3 linked regions of the Homo sapiens genome follow. The protein of the gene in region 1 purifies or fractionates together with the protein of each later gene. This does not show direct contact. Each region holds a gene or a part of one and is shown in the gene's direction. Other genes may lie near its edges.

Evidence for each region.
Region 2: the proteins of FRMD3 (region 1) and LCLAT1 purify together in Homo sapiens (affinity purification with mass spectrometry; 2 studies listed by BioGRID and IntAct, with this or other methods). This does not show direct contact.
Region 3: the proteins of FRMD3 (region 1) and KLHL15 purify together in Homo sapiens (affinity purification with mass spectrometry; 2 studies listed by BioGRID and IntAct, with this or other methods). This does not show direct contact.

Annotation. Positions count from the first base shown.
Region 1 is NC_000009.12:83,527,158-83,536,737, reverse strand, and holds part of FRMD3 (FERM domain-containing protein 3), read left to right. Parts: intron 1-9,580. UniProt on the Homo sapiens protein: Putative tumor suppressor gene that may be implicated in the origin and progression of lung cancer.
Region 2 is NC_000002.12:30,527,246-30,534,245, forward strand, and holds part of LCLAT1 (lysocardiolipin acyltransferase 1), read left to right. Parts: intron 1-5,870; coding exon 5,871-6,069; intron 6,070-7,000. UniProt on the Homo sapiens protein: Exhibits acyl-CoA:lysocardiolipin acyltransferase (ALCAT) activity; catalyzes the reacylation of lyso-cardiolipin to cardiolipin (CL), a key step in CL remodeling.
Region 3 is NC_000023.11:24,017,187-24,024,186, reverse strand, and holds part of KLHL15 (kelch-like protein 15), read left to right. Parts: intron 1-7,000. UniProt on the Homo sapiens protein: Substrate-specific adapter for CUL3 E3 ubiquitin-protein ligase complex.

The DNA of each region.
Region 1 (9,580 bases):
AGCCGGACAAGTGTCAAGGTAGGAATGTGATGCCCCATGATCTCCCAGGAAAGTAGGCTCCCATTGAATTTTCTGGGGGAGCTTGAATTTCATTCTGAGCTAAGCAGCACTGCTAAACTTAATAATAAAAGGATTAGCAGGATAGGCAGTGTTTCTACTGCCACAAGGGTTGCACAGAAGCATCTGGCATGTACTAATAGTCTTGTGATCCAGAGAGTGTGGACTGTGCACTTTGCTTTAAGTCCTAAAGTGGGTGTACAGGTCCTTTAACCCATAATGAATGTGTAGATGATGGAGGGGCCGTCAGGGAGAGAGGCTGTTGAGTTCTCCTCTGTCTCTCAGCCCTCTTCTGCCCTGTACCACTTGGTGTTGACATTTTTTTCCCCTCCCTCAGGATGAAGTCTTCCTTAGAATAATAAATATTCCCCAAAGGACATGTATTTGTTGTCTTGTGTTTTGAGAAACAATAAATTGTAGCCAGTCTAACAACAGTTTGAAAAACTCCAGTGCTTATGACCCAACTAGTGCCAAAGAGGTTAAAATGTTATGTTTCAAAATGTTGGCTTGGGCACTGATTTTTAAAAAATTATGATGTTTCATTTTGTGATTTGTCTTTTTCTGCCCTTTCTGCCCCCAAATTACAATTATTATTTAACCAATTAAAATAAATTAAAATATTTTATTTGGATAACTTTAGACCTCACACTTTCCTAGAGTACTCCAGACCAGGAATTGAAATTGCCCTTCCGGGTATCAGGTAACAAAGACTTCCCATTTGCTTAGAGTGAGAACAAAAGGATTAAAAAACAATGCGAAACAAAACCATTTGGAATTACTGGCACTTGTTCTGGGTGAATCCATCTGTGTTTGCTTCCTTCCTTCTATAGAACTACAAAGTTAAAGGATTGTATATATTGTCACAGAATGTCACCCTCTCTCCATAGCCCACATCTGCCTGTCTGCGTTAGGAGCTCTCATCCCTGGTGTCTGCCTGGCTCTGGAGCAGGGGTGTCCAATTTTCTGGCTTCCCTGGGCCACATTGGAAGAAGAAGAATTGTCTTGGGCCACACATAAAATACACTAACGCTAACGATAGCTGATGAGCTAAAAAAAAAAAAATCACAAAAAGTCTCATAATGTTTTAAGAAAGTTTATGAATTTCTGTTGGGCTGCATCCAAAGCTGTCCTGGGCCATGGGTTGGATGAGCTTGATCTAGAGGCTCTGTAGGAGGAGCAGGAGCTCTTGGACATGTGTTAGTTGTTCACTCCTGTTCACTACAGGAGTGCTGCCTATGGAGCCCCAAAATAAGTAGGGGAAACTCAAGCCACACATCCTTGGGAGCTCATTAGTCTGTGTTCTCTAGTAGGTAAGCATTCCAGATTCAAAGAAAAATGAGCCACTCAAACAGGTTTCTCTAGCAAGGTGCTGGAGAGTGGCCACACATGGTAGATGCAAGAGATGATAGAAACCTTCAGGACTATTGCTTGAGACAATGTGAATAGCTCTAGGTGCCATTTCTTGAGCATCTCTCATGAGCCAGCCTTTTCCACTCATTATGTCTGATCTCTACCACCAACCTTTGAGTAGGTATTATTCCCTTCTTTTGGGTAAGAAAACTGAGAAGCTAATAACTTAAGTGACTTGTTCAAGGCCACATCTCTAAAAAGAGAATGAGCAGCTGGAATTCAAATCCAGAATTGTCTGGATCCAAAGCTTATGTATGTCTTTGACATATTACCCCATAGTTAAAATAGCTGAAGTTTCAATGAAATTTCCAGACATGGAAAGAGGTAAATCCAAGGTAGGGGAATTTAAACCAGTGACTGAAGGCCAGTTGGGATTCATGATCTGAATGGACAAAGCGACCCTATTTGCCAGTTTGCAAACTTAATGTGTCCTGGGTCTTCCAGGGAGGCTGGCATCTCAGAGCTGATTGGAATCCCACAATCCAAATGTCACTGGGGGCCATTTCCACCCCCCAGAAACATGGTATTTGCCTTTAAAGAAACTATATGCATAAATGCCTTGTTAGGTTTGATACACTGTGTCCTTATATTTCAGACAGTAGTAGCCCCAAATTATGCCTATGCATCAAAAGATGAACCAAGCCAGAAACTAAGGGAGAATTGCCTAGTTGTGCTCTGATTAGAGGGTGTGATGGTGAAAGGGCATGTGTTTTGTGCCTCTTCAGTGTGCCTCCCACAAGGGGAGAAGGCAGAGTATTCTCCTTGTTACCTCCCCACCCCCTAGGATCTTTGCATTTGCCACTGCATAGAGGATAGGAAAGAGCTTTTGCAAAATAACAGCTTTTAAATAATCCTTTTCCAAATCATATAATTTTGGTAGTATTTGGCCAACGAAAACTTTCAAACACACAACCTAGTGGTCCAGTCTCAGCAGACTGGTGGTCAGTTCCAATAAGAGATGTGGAAGTCACTGGCTCTGTCTCTTTTCACAGGGTCTGGGATGCTGTCCCATCATATCATTTGCTTGTGAATGTTCAGGTAGGATGGAAGATAGAGGAATTCCAAATAGACAGGGAGTAAAGGGGAGTTTGGGTTACAAGACAGAGGCCTGGGGAAGGGAAGGAGTTACTGAATGCTCCTTATTGGGCTTTTCCAATTGAGCCAACCCCTGAAGTCTGGATTTTGTAGGAGGATGAGGTTTGACTCTAATTCTTCATTCAGCCTTGCTACTTCAATTAGAGTGGAGTCCTAGCCATCTTCTATCTACTTTTTTTTCTTTAGACACCGGCATTGTTATTCACAACCCTTGCTAATGAACTTGCCATTTTTAATACTGACTTTTTTGGGTTACATAGATTTTTGACATTATTCATACTTTGGCAAAGCCTGGTAAACATGGCTGACATAGTTGGAATTGGCTGAAAATTTGTATTTGTATTTGACTAAAAATCTTAGCATAGTGCTTTGCATACAGTAGGAACACAATAAATATCGATGTAGATTGAATAATTTTCTTTCTAGACTGTTAAATTCACAAGAGTAGGAACATTCTGATGTTCACCGCAGAGTCCCTGATATTTAGAATAGTGCCTACTATTCTATATAGTATAATATGTGCACATTAAACATCAGTTGAATGGATGAGTGCTAACCTTCCCAATATTTAGTCTAACTCATTACCTGTCAACATGAAGGTAGCATGCCAGCATTAGATCGGGAATCAGATGTGTGGTTTAGTTATGTTACCAACCAGCTGTGTGATCTTGAGTGAGTCATTTGACATTTGGAGTCAATTTTCTTTTCTTTTGTAAAACAAAAGAATTTGGTTAGATGGATGCTACAGTTTAAAAAGTCTGTGGTTTTATTATTGACTGGATAAATTACATGTGAATGAAGCATTTCTGTTGACAAAGTGGTAGTGTACGTATTATCTCATATGAATTTTATAACTATCCATTATCTCCATTTTATGGATGTTATTGTGTTACTGAGTATTATCTCAATATTGTATTACTAGATATGGAAAATGAGATTCAAAGAGGTTAGCAATTTGGGTAACCAAGCAAATAAGTGGATCAGAACCCAGGTCCTTTGACTCAAAATCCAGAGCTCTTTCATCTCTGGAGCACTGCCTCTTGGGACTGAATGATTAGGCTGCTTTTGGCTGCAAGTAAAAGAGTAGACAAGTTAAAGTGGCCTAAATAATAAGGACACTTATTATCTTAGCTGGCAAAAAGTCCAGAGAGAGGGCAACTTCAGGGCTGTTCCAAAGCTCTGCCTGGACTCAGTTGCTGCTTCCCATCTTTTCACTCTGGCATCTTCAGTGCATTAACTATGTCTCTATAGTCTCCATGATTATGAGGTGGCTGCAGTAATTTTAGATGTCAGTCAGTCACTACCACATCCACTGTCCAAGAAGAGGTATTTCCTCATGCATTGCCTTTTTATCACAGAGGAACACTTTCCCAGAGTCCCCATCAGTTTTCCCATCAGATTCCATTGGCCTGGATTGGATCATATGCCCATGCCCTAGCTGTAAAAGTGTCTAGGAATATATGCATCTGGCATTTTTCCTCTCTATAATGGGAGGTGGCTTTGCCATTATGGAAGGAATGGAATTATGTGTGTGTGTGTGTGTGCATGCACATGTGTGTGGTGGGGAGGAACAGCTGTCGGCTAATCATGCAGGAGCGTCTTTCAGAATACGTCAAATTAGGTTGCAATTATTGTTACAATAAACCTTTCATGAGAGTTTAGTAAGATGTCATCTCAGCCCTGGCTTTTTTTAGGCAATCTTTGTATGATCAAATTCTAGAACAAGGAAAATTATGAGAGAGTCCTTTGTAGTGTGTGTTGTTAAATATCATTTCTGCCCTTATGGAATGGGTGGGTTCTGGGCAGCTAAAAGGCATCTTGTTCAGAGCAGGCACAGCTCTCTATAGCAGACAAACTTTATGCTTGTTCAAGTGGCACAGTGGCATGAAGTGGTTGAGAGCATATGTTCTGGAGCACTGCTTGCTTGGGTTTGAACCCTGGCTCTGCCATTGACTAGCCAGGTGACTTTGGGGAAGTCACTTTTCCTCATTGGGCCTCAGTTTCCTCAGCTATAAAGTGGAAATAATAATAACATAGCCCTCATGGACTTTTTGTAAGGATTAAATAAGGATTATATGTCAAGTGCTTAGCTTAGTACCTGGCACATAGTGAGAGCTGAAAAAATAGTGACTGTTATCTTAATGTTTTGTGAAACTATATTAGAGGTAATCCTAAATAGTGGGAAGGCTTTGACTTAGAATCAAATGACTTTAAGCCTAAACTCCATCACTTTCTGATGGTGCAAGACCTTAAGCCAGTCACTGGGCCTCCTGTTCTTCAACTGAAAAATGAGAGTAATAATTCCTCAACTGCCAGTCTCCACTGTGTTGTTGAGATGGCTTATGTAAAAGCATGTTGTAAATGTTCAAATATCACCCAAATACAGAGTACTATTCTAATCAATTTAGTTGAAGAAAAGGTTAGCTTCTTATCTGTTGAAATGGGAATGATATTATCATGTGCAAACCTATATCTGTGCTAAATATCAGGCCCCATGATGATCCTGCTGGTGAAATCCAAGCTAGGTCCAGCTGGCAGCCACAGTTTTCTGCTAGTAAGGACAATTCAACACTTTTCTCTACCAAGCTCTTCTGGAATGCCATTCAGAGTCTACTGAAAATCAGACACAAAAGGAATAGAGGAGAGAGGCAGTTTGTTAAATACTGTGGCACAGCTCTGACGTTTTTAGACCTATATTATATGGGCCAGCTCTTTATATTAAGTATATCCTAAAAAAATGTAATGTTATTCCAATGGTCTGCTAAGATCTTATCTCTTGATATTTTCAAAGCAAAGGCAAAGTGTATTGACTTCAGGGAGAATACAATAATATTAGCTGCACATTGACGGTGTATCAGCTAGAATTCTTTTAACTACATGCAACAAATTCTAATTCAAACTGGCTTTAACATTAAGGACATTTACTGACTCATATATTCAGAAGTCTTGAATTATATATTTAATTCAAGGACTGTGGCTCTGTTTCTCTGGGGTTCCTTTGCCTCTTCTTGCCATTTGGGATGGCTCTATCCTCAGACTGGTAGTGAAATAGTTATAGTAGTGCCAGTTCTCACATTTTCATAGGATACCCTCCAGAGGAAGAGAGAAGCCACTTCCAATTCAGCATCCCAAACAGAAGTGTGCAGTCATTCTGATGGGACCTCCCAGGTCACATGCTTACCCCTGAAGCAGTGACCCTGACCAGGGGAAGATAATGTGCTGATTAGCTTAAGGTGCAGAGCTTGACCCTGGGACTCAGGGTGGGATCAACTTCCCCTGTGGTGATGTTCTGCCTGGGGAAGAGCAAATACCTAAAATCAGATAGGAGGAAGGGGGAAATGGCTCCTAAAAAGATAACCCACAATACCTACTGTAGATGCTTTGTCTAGGGTAGGTGGTTCTCAAAGTGTTGTCTGGGGAATCCTGGAAGTCCCTGTGATCATTTCATGGAGTCCATGCTATTAAAAAAAAACTATTTTCAAAATAATACTAAGATATTGTTTGCCTTTTTGGATAACAGTTTTATTGAGATGTAGTTCACATTCCTTGTAGTACGCCCACTTAAGGTATACAATTTTTAATATATTCAGAGAGTAGTGCAGTCATCACCACAATTAATTTTAGAATATTTTCATCATCCCCAAAATGAACCTTTGCCCTTTAGCAGTCATACCTCCATTTCCCTCCAGACCTCCCAGTCCTAGGCAACCACTAATCTACTTCCTGTCTGTATAGATTTGTCTATTCTGGACATTTGATAAAAATGGAATCATAAAATATGTGAACTTTTGTGTCTGGCTTCTTTCACTTAGCACAATGTTTTCAAGGTTTATCCATATTGTAGCATGGGTCAGTACCTCCTTCCTTTTTCTTGTTGAATAGTAGTCCAGTCCATTGCATAGATATATCACATTTTGTTGATCCATTCATTAGTTGAACATTTGGGTTGATGGACATTTTGGCTATTATGAATAATGTTGCTATGAACATTCCTGAAAAAGTTGCTCTCTAGACATGTTTCATTTCTCTTGGGTGTATACCTAGAAGTGAAATTACTAGTCATATGGTAACTCTGTGTTTAATCTTTTGAATAACTGTCAAACAGTTTTTCAAAGTGGCTGCACCATTTTACATTCCCACCAGCAGTGTAGCAGGGTTTCAATTTCTTCACATCCTCTCCAATACTTGTTATTATCTATCTGTTTGATTATAACCATCCTAAGTGGGTGTGGAGTGGGATCTCATTGTGGTTTTGATTTGCATTTCTCTGGTGGCTAAAGTTGAGCATCTTTTCATGTGTCTATTAGCCATTTGTATATCTTCTTCAGACAGCTGCCCATTTAGATCCTTTGCCCATTTTAAAATTGGGTTGTCTTTTATTATTAAGTTGTAAGAGTTCTTCATATATTCTGGACACAAACCCTTTATATAATAAGTGATTTGCAAATATTTTTTCCCATTCTGTGGGATATCTTTTACTTTCTTGATGGGGTCAAAAAAGCTTTTAATTTTGATAAAGTCCAATTTATATATAATTTTTGTTGCTTGTATTTGTGATGTCATAGCTAAGAACTATTGCCCAATTCAAGGTAATAAGGACTTATGCCTATGTTTTCATTAAACAGTTTTATAGTTTTAGCTCTTACATTTAGGACTTTGATCCATTTTTAAAATTGATACATAGTTTGCATACCATAAAATTCATCATTTTAAAGTGCACAATTCAGCTGATTTTCATATATTCATAAGACTTTGCAACTACAATCACTCCCTAATTCCAGAACATTTTCATCACCCCAGAATAAATCTGTATCTATTAACAGCTACTCCCATATTTGATCCATTTTGTGTCAATTTTTGTGTATGGTGTGAGGTAGGGGTCTAACTTTATCCTTTTGCATGTGGATATCCAGTTGTCCCAGCACCATTTGTTGAAAAAAGCAACTCTTTTCCCTGTTGAATTGTCTTGTCACTCTGATGAGGTGTTGTTTACCTTTTCCACTTTCAGTCTTTCAGAAGTGTACAGTGGAATTTTCTAGAGGCTACAAGATGTGTGATATTGCAACAGATTGAATGAAGAAGCATATGTGAGAATACACCTCTTTGTTGAGTCAGACATTAAAGATATTTGCAAAACAATGCTGCTTTTATCACTACTTTATTTTGTACAATATAGCTATTTTTAAACAAAAATATGTTTTTTACATTAATGTACAGTGGGTTTATTGTTATTTTTAAATGAATCAATAATCGAATATTTTAAATAATTCTGTCTATATATAATATAAACAAAGGTTTTACAGATACTCAGTAGGTAAAGGAGTTTTGAGGCCAACATGCTGAAGAATTGCTGGGTGCAGTGGCTCATGCCTGTAATCCCAGCACTTTGGGAGGCCGAAGTGAGCAGATTGCATGAGCCCAGGAGCTTGAGACCAGCCTGGGCAACATGGTGAAACCCTGTGTTTACAAAAAAATACAAAAATTAGCTGGGCTTGGTGCGTGCCTGTAGTCCCAGCTACTTGGGAGGCTGAGGTGGGAGGATTGCTTAAGCTAGGGAGATGGAGGCTGCAGTGAGCTGTGACTGTGCCACTGCACTCCAGCCTGGGTGACAGTGAGGCCCTGTCTCAAAAAAAAAAATTGCTGGTTTAGGTGACTGTCCATTTACTGAACTTCCTGAAAAATTAAAAAAAACAAACCCAAACCTAAATAAAACAAAATAGAACTTATATGCTTCTTCTTTGCCTCCAAGATCATAAGTTACAAGTGCCCCAAGTGATGTCAATTAAATAAAAAACACTGCATGTTCACAGAAAATATGTATGTTATATTTGGAATTCTTAGTAGTAACTATGCACGTGTGTGTGTGTGTGTGTGTGTGTCTGCGTTTATATTCAAAATATTAAGAGTAGAAGGACAAGGCTAGGCTCTAGTGTAATAAGCATTTTCTAATTTCACTTGCTCTCTAACTGAATCCTAACTTTTTAAACTCTAATAATTGCATAAAGCTGTGTCTTGTTTTGAGACCCTTCTTTTGATCATGGAAAATATACAGCTAAACATGAAGTGTTTAAACTGTAAACCATTTGAATCAGGCCCATTAGTCACTTGAATTATTAAGTTGTTACTTCTTTTTCTGAGTAGGCATTTTGGGAAAACAGAAAAATGTTGCAGGAATGGAAATATCAGAATTTATCGCATAAGAATCTGAGATTCACATGGCATAAGTGTTATGCATTGGGAGGATAACATGGCCCTCTTTTAGTTCTCACTCTGTGATGGAGAATTTCAAGTTGCTCTTCTCATGAAGTAGCAGAGAGCCAGATGCGGAGTCCAGAGGCAGGAAAAATAATAGGACTAGGGTCAGGAGCCAGTTGGGCAGATTTTGCAGCTGAGGTTTGAACTTGACTCAGGCTCAGAAGAGTTAAGTTCAGCATTGAGCCCTGGGAGAAGTGTGTAAGTGCTTCTCGGTTGGATGTTTCTGTGGATTTTCTGTGCTCTTGTTCAAATGCAGACTCGGATTCAGGAAGTCTTGGGAAGGGCCCTGAAATTTGACATTCTTAGCACGCTTCCAGGTGGTGCTTGTGTGGCTGGTCTGTGGACCACATCTGGAATAGTCAGACATCAGTGGAATTTACCTTTCTCCTAATAATATTGTTAAGTTCCTCGAGTGGAGGAGTCTGTTCCTTTTGTTCCTCCCTCGATTGTGCCTCACTGGGCGCATTTCTTTGAGTAGATGTTCAATGAGTGTGGGTAAGTGAGTGAATAAATAAAGAAATCCATCCTGGTGTGTCTATCACAGGTATAATGAAGTGCTGATTAGACACTGTTGCTGGGTATGGAATGATTCTGTTTGACTATTTGTTCCAACCAAATCGAGAGATTGTTTTTTCAAACAGGATTTCCCATGGCAAATCTGATGAAGTGTTGCATGTCCATGAGAGCACACAGGACTAGGCTTAGTGACTGCCTTCTCGTCCCTCTGGGCCAGGCTTCCCAGTCTTGCTTTCCTGTACCCTGG
Region 2 (7,000 bases), on another chromosome or scaffold:
ATCATCTGTAAAATAAAGAAATTGGAGTAAATGATCTTTGAGATCTATTCTGGATTCAGAATTGTATATCTGATTGTAAAGCAAACATTCAGAGGTAAAAGATTTTTTGTAACAGTCATGTATTGTTACTGTACTCCATTTTCTAAATGTCATCAGTTTTCTATAGTATATAATCCTTTAATTATGAACCACACATTTTTGTTGAATCTTTCTGCCAAAACCTTGAGAGTTCTGAGAATTGGTAAAAATTACTACAGTTGTAATGCTTTACAGTGTCCAGTCACTCTAATTTTTGGAGAGCGAGCATAAGCAGAGTGCTTATTTTCACAGACATTGCAGACAGATATTTGGTTTCACTATTGGCCTTCCCACTTTCTAGTCATTTGAACTTGGCTAAGCTCCTTAGCCTCATTGTAAGCTTTTGTTTCTTCATCTCTATAAAAAGGAGTCTTAATACTACCTACTTACATCAGAGAGTCATTGTAATGACTAAATGAGGTAATAAATATATAGCCTTTTTAGTATAATGCTTGCCATTTGGTAAGTACCCGGTAAATATTTGGTATTATATTAATTTTAGTTTTAGTTTTAGTTTTGCTTTTATATTAATTTTAGGCTAAACTGGTGTTTTGGAGAAAATTCAAAATATAGTGGCTCCAATACAGTAGAACTATATTGACTTACAGGTCCAGGCTGGCAAGGTCCCTACGGTCCCTGATGTCATCAAAGGGTTCAGATGTCTTCTATCCTGTTAATCCACCTAGCTTGGCCTCCAGCCTGGTATAATGTCCTCTTGTATTTGGTCAAGACTGGGTCACTGCCACTTCTTTGCCCCACTCTGGAGGAAGTCCAGAGCAAATGCTTTCTTTCTATACCAGTGACTCACGTGTGTAGTACATAGCAAGTTGCACATATCACTTTTGCTTACTCTATTGGTAAGAGCAGCTAAAAGCTGTAATAGAATCTGGGAAATGTCTTTTTTTTCTGGGCAGCCATGTGCACAGTTAAAATTCTTAATCTGGAAGAAATGCTGGTATTTATAGGACAAGTTACCAAACAAATTCTGCAATAGCTATTTCTGCTATTATTACTGCTAGTAGCATTACTATTACTGCAGAATTACATTATACACCTACAGTATTTGTACAGTTTCAATTACATGCACTAAGGTAAGGGAAGAGTGGGCAGAGAAGAGAATGAATTTTTTTCTGCTTCATGTGAGATGAAATAGGAAATATGAGTGGTTCTCTGCTGAGTGTGATTCTTGTGTTTAAAGATAGATATTTTTAAACAATATACAAACCAATCACTTTGTCTGATGGTCAGGTAGGGTAATATCAATATAGTACAATTTTGGGAGAAGATTGGCTGAGCTGGACTTACTGATAGTGTGATCTTTTGAGATGCACCATCCTATGAGATTTTCAAAGATAATTTCACCTATTCCTAACTTTTGTCTTATTAGCTGTTTGGACAGTTTAACACATGGGTAAGATTTAACTACCACAGTACTAGTAAAAAATTAGTATACATTTGGAAAACTGCTGTCACTCAGCTGTTTAGTTTACTAGTTACAGCATATCAGACAGAGAAAGTTTTTTTAGTTAAGAAATGTATAGATGTTGAATTCCTTATAGCTAGGTTACAGAAAAATTGATATTCTAGTTTTGAGATAGTGAACATCTCTGTTGAAGGAAACAGAGAAGAACCATCAAGGGTGTCTTTTATCACCTTTTATCTCATACTCGTACAAGGAGCTAAAGGAGTTTTTAAGCAATAATAAAATATATTCTTTTTAAATTCAGAGTGAATTTAATCTAAAAGCTTTTCTTCTATCCCTTATTGATGTACTTTATTTTAAGCAATCCCAAACAGTTAAAAATAATTTTCCACTAAAAATAAATTAGGATAAATGCACTTAAACTAATTATTGCTTCACAAAAATAGTCACAAAATGATCTTCTCTTTCATTAAGTTTCTCTTGTGGATTAAAATGATTTTGTTGGCAAGATTTTTCTTGTCTTACTATTTTTAAGGAGCACATTTCTGTGCTAAAAGAGGCATAGCAGTGAAATGTTTTAGAATCTTAGATGAGACTTAGAGGTCACTTTGTCTAACCTAACTCTGTGGGCAAGAATCCGTTCTAGAACTATCTGCAGGGTGACCATTCAGTCTTTCTTTGAATGTTTCTATAATTCGGAGTGCATGCCTTTGTTCCTTTTATTTTTGGACCATTCTGTTCAACATAATGAATATTGTAAGGGTCAAACTCAGCATGTGCTCAGAGCAGTTTTTGCTTCTCAAAATTCTAACTAACCGACAGTCTGATTACTACCTGGGATTATGAAAATTACTGGAGTTCTGTCCTTTCACCATAAATCATGCCTTAGGAATTTAGAGGTCATTTTCTAACTGTCTACCCAGGGCACAAGTTTCTTCCACAGCCTTCTGATACCATTCCAGTCCTAGCACAAAACAGGTGTTGAATAAACATAGATTGCTGAATGTGATTTTTGTCTACACTGTTGCTCTTAACAAAGTGGGTGCTCAGTGTTTTGAAGAATGAGTTGGGATTGCAAAGCCTCAAGTAGCTAGGGATTTGGAGAACCAGACCTAATCTGAGCCTGAAAAGCAAAAGCAGACATGGAGATGAGTTGTTATTACCTCAGACTAAGTAAAGATCCATCAGAATGATAAATGAGAGTGAGAGCAGCGGGCATGATGGTAAAACTTTCTCTGTGATCTTGAGAGGAACCACTCTCATCTTTGTGTTTTTATACACAATGGAACACTTGGACATAGTAAGTAGTGGTATATAAAAGATCCTTGGAAAATGCTTCCATATTTCTGTTAAATAATACACAGAGAAATCTTTGACCAATTAGGTAAAAATTATCAGAATTGTTACTCTTCAATATAAGAAACAATGCATTATAAAATTTTGTTAGATTTATTACTGTTGACACTATTATCTCCTATACTAGCAATAAAATAAACATGAGAAATGTGAGAATAGTGTCTTTTTTCCCAGTCTTTTAGTCTGGATTAATTGAATTCTGGAGTTCTGTATAGATATTACAGCTTTATTTCTGTGTAGTATATTTGTTTTTCTGCCTTTGCAGGAGCTGTAAATAAGGTTGACTGGATATGTCTCATCTGGTATTACAACCAATTAATGTGGACTTGAGATCTTGGCTGCCCAAAGGTTATTTATAACTTTCAGGCATATTCTGGTAGAATGCTGGATGTCAAGGGAGAGGATGTCATGTTATATGAGATGTTCCTGGACACATGGTCTTGATTGTTGTTGTTGTTGCTTTTTTGGAGACTACATTCTCTTGCCCAGCTGGAGTGTAGTGGTGCAGTCAGATCTCACTGTAACCTGAAATTCCTGGACTCGAGTAATCCTTCTGCCTCAGCCTCCTGCGTAGCTAAGGCTCTGGGCATGTTCCACAATGCCTGGCCTTTAAAAATTTTTTGTAGAGCTGGAGTCTTGCTATGTTGCCTAGGCTAGTTTCAAACTCCTGGCTTCAAGCGATCTTCCTGCCTTAGCCTCCCAAAGTGCTGGGATTACATATGTGAGCCACCACACCCATCCCAGTCTTGGATTTTTTATGTTATTTTTCATAATGAAAAGCAAAGGATTGTTTGGGATCTATAGGTATCATATATTAGAGATTGCATATATAGGTTTAGATTTGAGGTTTGGAATTTATAGGCTTAAGATTTTTAACTCTTGGCCGGGCACGGTGGCTCATGCCTGTAATCCCAGCACTTTTGGAGGCCAAGGCGGGCGAGTCGCAAGTTCAGGAGTTCAAGACCAGCCTGGCCAACGTGGTGAAATCCTGTCTCTACTGAAAATACAAAATATTAGCTGGGTGTGGTGGCGGGCACCTGTAATTCCAGCTACTCGGGAGGCTGAGGCAGGAGAATCACTTGAACCCGGGAGGCAGAGGTTGCAGTGAGCCGAGATCGCGCCACTACACTCCAGCCTGGGCGACAGAGTGAGACTCCGTCTCAAAAGAAAAAAAAGAAAAAGGGACATTTTTTGCTGTGGATCCACACCTGTAGGACTCTGCCATGATCCTTTTTACCAGGAGGTCTTCCATGTAGGTATTTCACTTTCAAGGGACTTTTTGGAGTAGGGGTTATAATTAGTTGAGCGGTTATGGACCCTTTTGAAAATTTGATGAAAACTGCAAGCATTTTACCTAGCAAAGTATGTGTACACATTGACATATCTTTATATACAGCTTAAGAGAAATACATTTTTATTGACCTCTTGGAGGCCATCGTTCTAGGACATAATAGATAACTGGATTAAATACCCATGCTGAAAGTGAACCTCAGCTGTGGGAAAGTAACTTAATGGACCTATGGGATATCTGTAGCTACTTAGCCCAAATGATTTTGTATCAGGATGTTAACACTTTGACTCTGTAACAATTTGGACATATAACTTTTCTAACTTCTTTTTACTTTCTAGTATATTTCTTTAGCTAATATTATTTTGAACCTATGTTTTATTGATCCTGTTATGTTTTTCAAAGTCTTACTGTTTCATATTGCATTTTTAAAAAAATGCCTTTTTGTTGTGAAGTATAGCAAACATACCGAAAAGTTATTAAAACACAAATGTACAATTTAATGAAAAATTTTGCGTGTAACTGTCAACCAGGTCAAGAAATACAGCATTGTCAGTTCTCCAGCAAGCTACCTAGACTTCCAATGAAAACATCCTCCTTTTGGTAGAAGTATTCATTAATCTGACTTTTAAGATAGTTATTTTCTTCTTGTTCTTTATAATTTTAGCATCTATATAATCATCTTTAAAATATCTTAATCTTTTAGAAAGTCTTATATATTGACATTTATTGTATATATTTTTGTTTGTTTTGCTGTCTTTCAAAATTATGCTTCTGTGTATCTTTCATGTTGCTGTAGGTACTTGTAGTTCATCTACTTTCATTGTTGTATCATTTTTCCATTATATGAGTATACCACAGTTTGTCTATTGGCTATACCTTGTTCAAGATTATCATGATATTCGCCAAGAGAACTTTTGATTCTGTATCGTATATTTGCCTTTAGATCAATTTCTCTCTTTATTAATAAGTCAAATATTAACTAGTAAATTTGTTACATGTAAATTGAGAATTCAAAGAAGAGTTTGAAATCAATAATCAGCTTTTATTGTAATCTGTTATTTTACTTTCAAGAACTCATAAGTCTATAATATATTGTTTTTCTAAATACTTCATATGTATTATATACCTGGCCCATCAGAAAAGCAAATTAAGGAAATTCAGCAATTATTTGAACATTACTATTTTCTAGGTACTAAGGCTTGTAGTATTTTAGTAGATGTATAGTTAATTTATTCTTTACATAGTGTCAAAATAAATAAGATCTATGTTTTTGTTTTTAAAACATCATAGTACAGGATGCTATAAAGTGAACAGTTTACCTTTCCGGGATTTTTTTTTTTCCCCTGTACCCAGTGCTAATTCTTTGACTGTTCTTTCTAGAAAAAAAGGTAATAATGTTACATATCTATATCCTTAAAATATTACACAGTAGAATATTGATATTCACCTTTTATACTTTTTGCTTAATAAGATATCTTGATTTCAAGGACAATCAGCATTTTTTAATTAGGACATCACAGAAGCTTAAAATAGAAATAGTGCTTGATATTCTCATTCTTCTAGATAACCTCACCACTCAATTTTTTATTATAGAAGCAAGGATCATGGGAAATACTAACTTTTACATGTTAGAAATCATAAGATTTATTTATAGGGCATGATAAAATTTACCTATGGAAAATCATAACTTTAATTTGCTGTATATCTGTATTGTTTTCTTAGGCATTATTGGAGACCATGTTTGGTGTAAAAGTGATTATAACTGGGGATGCATTTGTTCCTGGAGAAAGAAGTGTCATTATCATGAACCATCGGACAAGAATGGACTGGATGTTCCTGTGGAATTGCCTGATGCGATATAGCTACCTCAGATTGGAGAAAATTTGCCTCAAAGCGAGTCTCAAAGGTGTTCCTGGATTTGGTAGGTTATTCACACATTATTTTAAGTGGTTCATTCATTTTAGATGTAATGCACCCACTGTAAAACTGACTTAAGCATTAAAGCGATTCCATTTTTTTCCTCACTGGGCCAAAAACAATCTCTGGTTCTTTTGTCTTTAGTGGATCTGCTATGGCAGATGACTTTATTTTAATCTGTTTTTAAAAAATATTACTCTGAAAGAGAAAATAAACTGTTCTCAAGGAAATGGATATATAGTATCTGAGGACCACAGCATTGAAGGATATGAATTAATAGTTTAGTAACTTTTTATTGCAGGTAGTACTTGTGATTTCGGCCAGAAACTGGTCTGTGCTGATAAAGTACTTGACATTGACTGATTCATTCATATTCATGTAGTAAGTATTAATTGAATATGTAGGTTCGAAGCATTCATTATGCTAGGTGCTGGTACTTTCTGAACTTCCCCAATCTATAACTTTTTTTAAAAAATGTTTTTATCGCGCTTGTATAATATAATATTAAAGTTCCTGGAAATGTTTATTTTAAATGGCTAGGAATACAACATGTTCATTGTGTGTTGGAGAAGTAGGGATATTTCAACATTGCATGTTAAAAATAAATGGCCTCCTTTCTCAACTTGCTACTTAATGTGAAAAAGGGAGGGGAAAGATTATAAATATATTCAAACCAGTTATTCACATGGGTATATGAAGTACCCACTATATCCTCCTGACAGCCTTGTTAATTACATTTATACTTCTGTGGTTTACCTAGGTAACATTTCTCACTTAAACTATGTACCCTCTTAAACCATTCCTCTATTAGTATACTGACGTGGTTTATGATTTGTGAGGGCAAAGGGCAGGCCCTCACAGGATAGACTAGTAAGGATAGACTAGCAAGGGTGTTTGTAGTTGATTTACTGTGTGTGTGTGTGTGTGTGTGTGTG
Region 3 (7,000 bases), on another chromosome or scaffold:
CCTCCTACGAAGTGCTAACTGCTTATTTAAATAACGGTATTCTTTAATTCAAATGTAACGTTACCGTAGGGGCTTTGCTTTTCATCGTTCTAGGCCGCTTTAGGCCCCTTTTCTTACTCCAAATATTTAACACCTTACATTTGTTAGTCTTTTCTGTTTTCCGAATTTGTTTGCCTTTGTTAATCTGATTAAGTGGTAATTTAGAAAATGCTTTGCAGACATATATGCCCTAATTTTAATGCCTGTTTTTCATATCTAGGGAGCAGGATGCTTGAATACTTCTACTAATTTGAAAATTGGTTTTGAAGAGCTTATCAATGCATTCATGTTTCAGTAATCCTTAATAGATCTAGAAATGTATAGAACATTTCAACTTTTTAGCACTTAATGTAATTATATAATTTTATTCTCATTTTTAATCACAACACGTAGTAGGTGCTTAGAGTCACAGTTTATCAGTGGTAGAGGATGTTAACTTGCACTCTTCATTGCTGATTAATTTGGGGAAAGAATAGGATAGTAAATATTTGTGGTTTGAAAATTGAATTTATTTTGCCAGGATTTATATGTGTAACAGATTAGTATTGATCATTTTTACTTGGCATATCAAAAATATAGTATGGTTTGGCTTAAATGGTCCACAAAAAGTGAAAAGAGAAGCATTTTTGGGTATATTGTTATTTTTAGCTAACAAATGGTTTTGAGTAGTTAGATGTTTTATTAAATTTATAATCCTCTAGTCCAATACCAGTTGTCTTTCAGAGTATGCTTTTGTGTTTTGTAAAAAGGCAAAATAATAGAAGTTGGGCAGGATTTACATAGTAAAAGGAAGAGCCTACTTCAAAGTGGCTGGTTTTATAGATTGGATTTATCACTAATCTTGATAAAATTTTGACAAATCATTGCTTTATTGGGGATTTCAAGGTTTGACCTTCTCTCTACCTCGAGTCGGGTTATCTCAGAAACCTAACCTTGATCAGGGCAGGCTTGGCTTCATGGATGTTCAGAAGGGCCCCACACTTGGTTTAATAATCTGCATGTAAAACTGGGATTGTACAGTATAAGGGTGAATGGTAAAATTCATGCTAATTTAAATTTTTAATTTTCCTTTACTCAGAACGACATTAAACATCAAATTTAAAAAACACTGAGAGCCGGGAGCGGTGGCTCAGGCCTGTAATCCCAGCACTTTGGGAGGCCGAGGCGGGCGGATCACCTGAGGGTCGGGAGTTTGAGACCAGCCTAACCAACGTGGAGAAACCCCGTCTCTACTAAAAACACAAAGTTAGCCTGGCGTGGTGGCGGGCGCCTGTAATCCCAGCTACTCTATTCCCAGCTACTCGGGAGGCTGAGGCGGGAGAATCGCTTGAACCCGGTAGGCAGAAGTTGCGGTAATCCAAGATGGCGGCACTGCACTCCAGCCTGGGCGACGAGAGCAAAACTCCGTCTCAAAAAAAAAAAAAACCGCGAAACAGTTGAGAGATACAGAAGAAAGTTTTGAAAGAGCTTTACATTTTATTACCTTTAACGACTTTTTTTTTTTTTTTAAGACAAGAGTCTTGTTCTGTCGCCCAGGCTGGAGTGGAGTGGTGCGATCCGATCCCCGCTCATTGGAACCTCCACCTCCCGGCCTCAAGCGATTCTTGGGCCTCAGCCTACTAAGTAGCTGGGATTATAGGCGCTCGCCACCACGCCCGGCTAATTTTTGTATTTTTAGTAGAGACGGGGTTTCACCATGTTGGCCAGGCTGGTCTCGAACTCCTGGACTCAAGTGATCTACCCGCCTTGGCTTCCCAAAGCGCAGGCGGGAGCCACCGTGCCCAGCCTTTTTTTTTTTTTTTTTTTATCTTTTGAGACACAGTCTTGCTCTGTCTCCCAGGCCGGAGTGCAGTGGCGCGATCTCGGCTCACTGCAACCTCCGCCTCCCGGGTTCAAGTGATTCTCCTGCCTCAGCCTCCCGAGTAACTGGGATTACAGATGCGCGTCAGCATGCTTGACTAATTTTTGTATTTTTAGTAGACACGGGGTTTCACCATGTTAGCCAGGCTGGTCTCGACTGACTTCAAGTGATCCGCCCGCCTCGGTCTCCCAAAGTGCTGGGATTACAGACATGAGCCACCGCGCCCGGCCATCGCCCAGCCTTTTAACAACATTTTTCCCTGATTTTGAACAAGAGTCCCCGCAAATGATGTAGGTGGCCTGTTGTCAAGCCTGGCCTTTCCCAGTGCAAATGTTTTGAGAGTGAATAATGTTAACTGTGAGGAGAATGAATCTTTAGCTTAGAGGAGGTGGATTACTTTATTAGCATCTATTTTCTCTGAATTGGAGTGCTATAGCTCATGTGGTGCTTTTTTTTTTTTATTGAAGAGAAATGAAAGATGGAGCCATGGGTGAGGCATTGTAGAACAGTGTTTAATAGGGGAGGCTATGAAGTCAGGCAGACCCCAACTTCACAACTTACTAATAATTATAGCCTTGGGCAAGTTACTTAACCTCTGTGAGCTTTGATGTTCTCATCTTTAAGTCGGGGATGGATACAAAACATGGAAGGTTGCGAGAATTAAATTTATCTGTCTTTCCAACAAATATTTATTAAGCACTTATTATGTGCCAAGCACTGTTTTAGGTGCTGGAGATGCAACAGTCAGTGAAGCAAAACCGACAAATTGAAGCAGAAAGGAAACTAAGTAAAATGGATAGCCTGTATTGCCATTTAATATACTGCAGAGAATAATAAAGTGGAGGGGCATGGGGATTGTCAGGTTGATGGGGCAGATGGGGTTTTGCAACTTTAAAAGAGGGTGTTTGAGGAAGGCCTCACTGAAATGACACCAAAGACCCTAAGGGAACCATATATATCTGGGGATAGTGTGATCCAGGCAGAGGGAACAGGGTGTAGAGAGGCCTTAAGTTGGGAGTGTAGCTGGTTTTCAAGGAACAGCGGCACCAAGGGAGATAGTAATATAAGATTATTATTATTGCCATTTTAAGAATCATTGGAAAGGCTCTCATAGTTCATCTCTGCCAAGGGTATATGTTGTATTGCTGCTGGTCCAAAAGTGGAAGACCTTTTCAGAATTTGAAATTTTAACTTTGCAAGTAAGAAATTAGGAAAGACAAAATATGTTGTCAGGTTTTCTGTTTTTAACGTAAGACCCTTAAAGCTCATCAGGCTCAATCACTGAAACATGTAAGAATGGATAGAAAAAAATACCCTTTGTCTCTGATAAGATCTTTGAATTTAGTTAATGATATATATTATAGACTAATGATTTGCAGGAAATCTGTATCATAACAGCAAGACTTTCCAAAATATTTAGTTTGGTTGTATAATTCTTATGAGGAACTGAAAGGCTAACATTACAGTATTTGTGATTTCATGTTAGAATAGAACTTAGAAGATTTGGGGTTTTATTCCCCAATAGAGGCTTTTCCTAGAATTCTCACTGGATCCAATCTCTAAAGGCTAGGGAAGCTGTTTTCCATGACATCACTCTTGGACTACTTCTAGTCATAGTGTGGAATAAGCAGAGAAGCATTAAATTAAAGTCTTCTGATGAAAAATAGCATTCAAGCAGGGTTTTTTTTTTCTTATAAGGCTTCTTGTATTATAGGATGACGAAATGCTAAACATACCTGAAAAGTGAAGTAATTTGGTGCCAGTCTGGAGGCTGGAGGACCCAGGGCCCTCCTAATAGCTTAGTTAAATGGTCATTTGCAATTTGGTCCTGAGTTATAAAAATATTTTGATGACAAGAAAGAATTTCCAGTATTAAACAAATTAAAGTTAACTTACACAACGTCTCCTCCCATATTAAAGTGAGTTTTCAATTTGAGTAGTGTATTGAGAGTAAAGTGACCGCTAATAGAGCTTAAAAGTCTGTCTTTAAATTTGTCTTTTCTTTTATATTGGTATGTTGAGAAGTTGGCTGCTTTGAGATTGTCAAATTTACATTTTTTTACTTTATGGGTTACAGAAGTGAGAAATGTTATGACTCAGAAATTAATTCTGTTTTTATCCGTAGTAAGCCTTTGCATTCTCTTTTCGATATGCAACTGTGGCATTTTCTGCATAGGCATCAATTTTGGTAGGAGAACAGTTTGGGGATGAAGATAGTATGAAATCATTTAAATTTTTCATTGAGGGTAAGTATATTATATCAACCTCTGAGAATCTAGCTTTTGCATTGAATACCTTAAGCTTTTGTATGAATTTTCAAGCAGCTGTGGAAGGAATGTGAAAGCAATAAATTATTGCTTATGGCACAAACATAGAGGTTAATTTTGAAATGTCTTTTAATTGCCTATAATTTTGCCTTCACATCAGAATGGCAGCCTTATAACTGAAAAGGAAGCATTTAATTTCTTTGCCTTTAATTTCCTGTCCAGTTTTACCCCCACCAAACTTCTTTTTTTACTGGTCACTAGAGAGTTTGAAGTGTTCAAAAATTCTGTGATATAAATAGCAGTAATAGTCTTCCAGGGCAGAGGTAGGAAGAGGTTGAGGTTTGTGCGTGCACGTGTGTGTGTGTGTGTGTGTGTTGTCACTTATCTCTTACACTTTCAGTTGTTCTCAAGCCTGTGGTCTCAGGACTTCTTTGTACTTATTTGTACTCTTAAAAATTAGTGGGGGCCGGGCTTGGTGGCTCACACCTGTAATCCCAGCACTTTGAGAGGCCGAGGCGGGTGGATCGCTTGAGGCCAGGAGTTCGAGACCAGCCTGGGCAACATGGTGAAACTCCGTCTCTACTAAAAATAAAAAAATGAGCTGGGCGTGGTGGTGGGCTCCTGTAATCCCAGCTACTCAGGAGGCTGAGGCAGGAGAATCGCTTGAACCCCGGAGCAGAGGTTGCAGAGATCATGCCACTGTACTCCAGCCTGGGTGCAGAGTGAGACTGTCTCAAAAAATAAATAAACAAATAAAAATTAATTCTATTACATGGTAACCTAAATAACATTTTTTTATGAAAAATAACTTTTCTAAAACAGTTAAGAACTTGGTGAAAAGAGTGGCATTGTTTTAAATTTTTGCATATCTCTTTAATATCTGGCTTAATAAAAGCCAATGGGCTTCTCATCAGCTTCTGCATTCAGTCTGTTGCAATATCACATACCATGTGTAAACCTCTAGAAAACAGAATGAAAGTGAAAAAGACAAATAACTATTCTTTATTTATGTATTTATTTTGAGAAGGAGTCTTGCTCTGTCGCCCTGGCTGGAGGTGGCGCAATCTTGGCTCACTGCAACCTCTGCCTCCTGGGTTCAAGCAATTCTCGTGCCTCACCCTCCTGAGTAGCTGGAATCAGACGCACATGCCATCACCCCTGGCTAAGTTTTGTATTTTTTAGTAGAGATAGGGTTTCACCATATTGACCAGGCTGGTTTTGAACTCCTGAGCTCAAGTGATCAGCCCACCTCTACCTCCCAAGGTGCTAGGATCACGGATGTGAGCCACTGTGCCCGGCTGACCAATAACTTTAAAAAAATTATTTGGATAATAATTTTGACATTGGGAAGCCCCTTTAGTGGGGACTGGGATCTTTTAGGACAACTGGATTCACTTGTCCCCAGATCATGCTTTGAGAATCCCTATACTAATCATTCTTAGGCACAAAAATGTGAGGCTTTCTTTTATTTAGTCAGTACCAAGTTTATGAAACAAGACACGTTCTTCAGTATTTCTTTCCTGGTAGTATAAGTATGCCTTGTCATTTGGTCTAATTGGTTTCCCTCTTGAAAAAAAAAAAACCTACTATTTGAAATTCTGAAGGCCATGTATAAAGTGTTGATAAACCTATATATGAAAAGTAAGGATACAGAATTTTTGTACATTGAACATTTTGTCAGTAAATGTTTTTCCTCAAAGCCTCTTAAATTTTTCCTCCAGCACTCATTTAAAGAGTTCTTATTTAAGGTTTTTGTGTTTTACAATGATTCGTTTTTTTCTTTTGGGAGAGTGGGGCTACGCACTTCTTGTTGAGCACGCTACTGCTGCCGCGGCTGTCTCTGCCATTGCAAAGTAGTTCTTATAATAGTTTTCTTCCTTAAATTGATATAATTCTGTACTTAGATTTCTTTTTAGAGACAGGGCCTTGTTCTGTTGCCCAGACTGGAATGCAGTGGCTTCATCGTGGTTCACTGCAGCCTCGACATCCTCACCGCAAGCGATTTTCCTGCCTCAGCCTCCCAAGTAGCTGGGGCCACAGGAGCACGCCACCAAGCTCTGCTATTTAAAAAAATTTTTTTGTAGGGAAGAGGTCTGGCCACATTGCCCAGGCTGGTCTTGAACTGGATCAAGTGATCCTCGTGCCTTGCCTCCCAAAATGTTGGGATTACAGGCATGAGGCCGCTGTAACCAGTTAAAGAATTATGTACACAATTTTTTTTTTTTTTTTTTTTTTTTTTTGGGACATGGTCTCACTCTGTTGCCCAGGCTGAAGTTCAGTGGTGGATTATAGCTCATTGCAGCCTCGGCCTCCCGGGCTCAGTTTATCCTCTGACCTCAGCCTCCTGAGTAGCTGGGACTACAGTCACACACCACCACGTCTGACTAATTTTTATGTTTTTAGTAGAGATGGGGTTTTGCCACGTTGCCCATGCTGGCCTCGAACTCCCGAGCTCAAGCGATATGCCCATCTCGGCCTCCCAAAGTGGTGGGATTATAGACGTGAGCCACTGCGCCTGACTCTGATCTGTTATAAATCTGCATTATGATAAACCCTAGGGAGGCATGGGGTTGGTAGAGAGGGGAGACTGAGGGTTCTCACTTAGGTTAATTCATTTATTCACCACCCTAACTTGATAATAAGATGATGATGATTATTAGTAATGTATGGATGGAAACCAAGATAGGAAGTTAACAAAATTTCTGTAGGTCACACAGTAAGCACTCTGATTTCAGAGGTTTTGCTCTTTCCGACCACACTATTTTGTATTTTTTGCAAATAGAATCTAATTTTTTTTTTTTTTTTTTTGAGACAGGCTCTTAGTTTGTTGCCC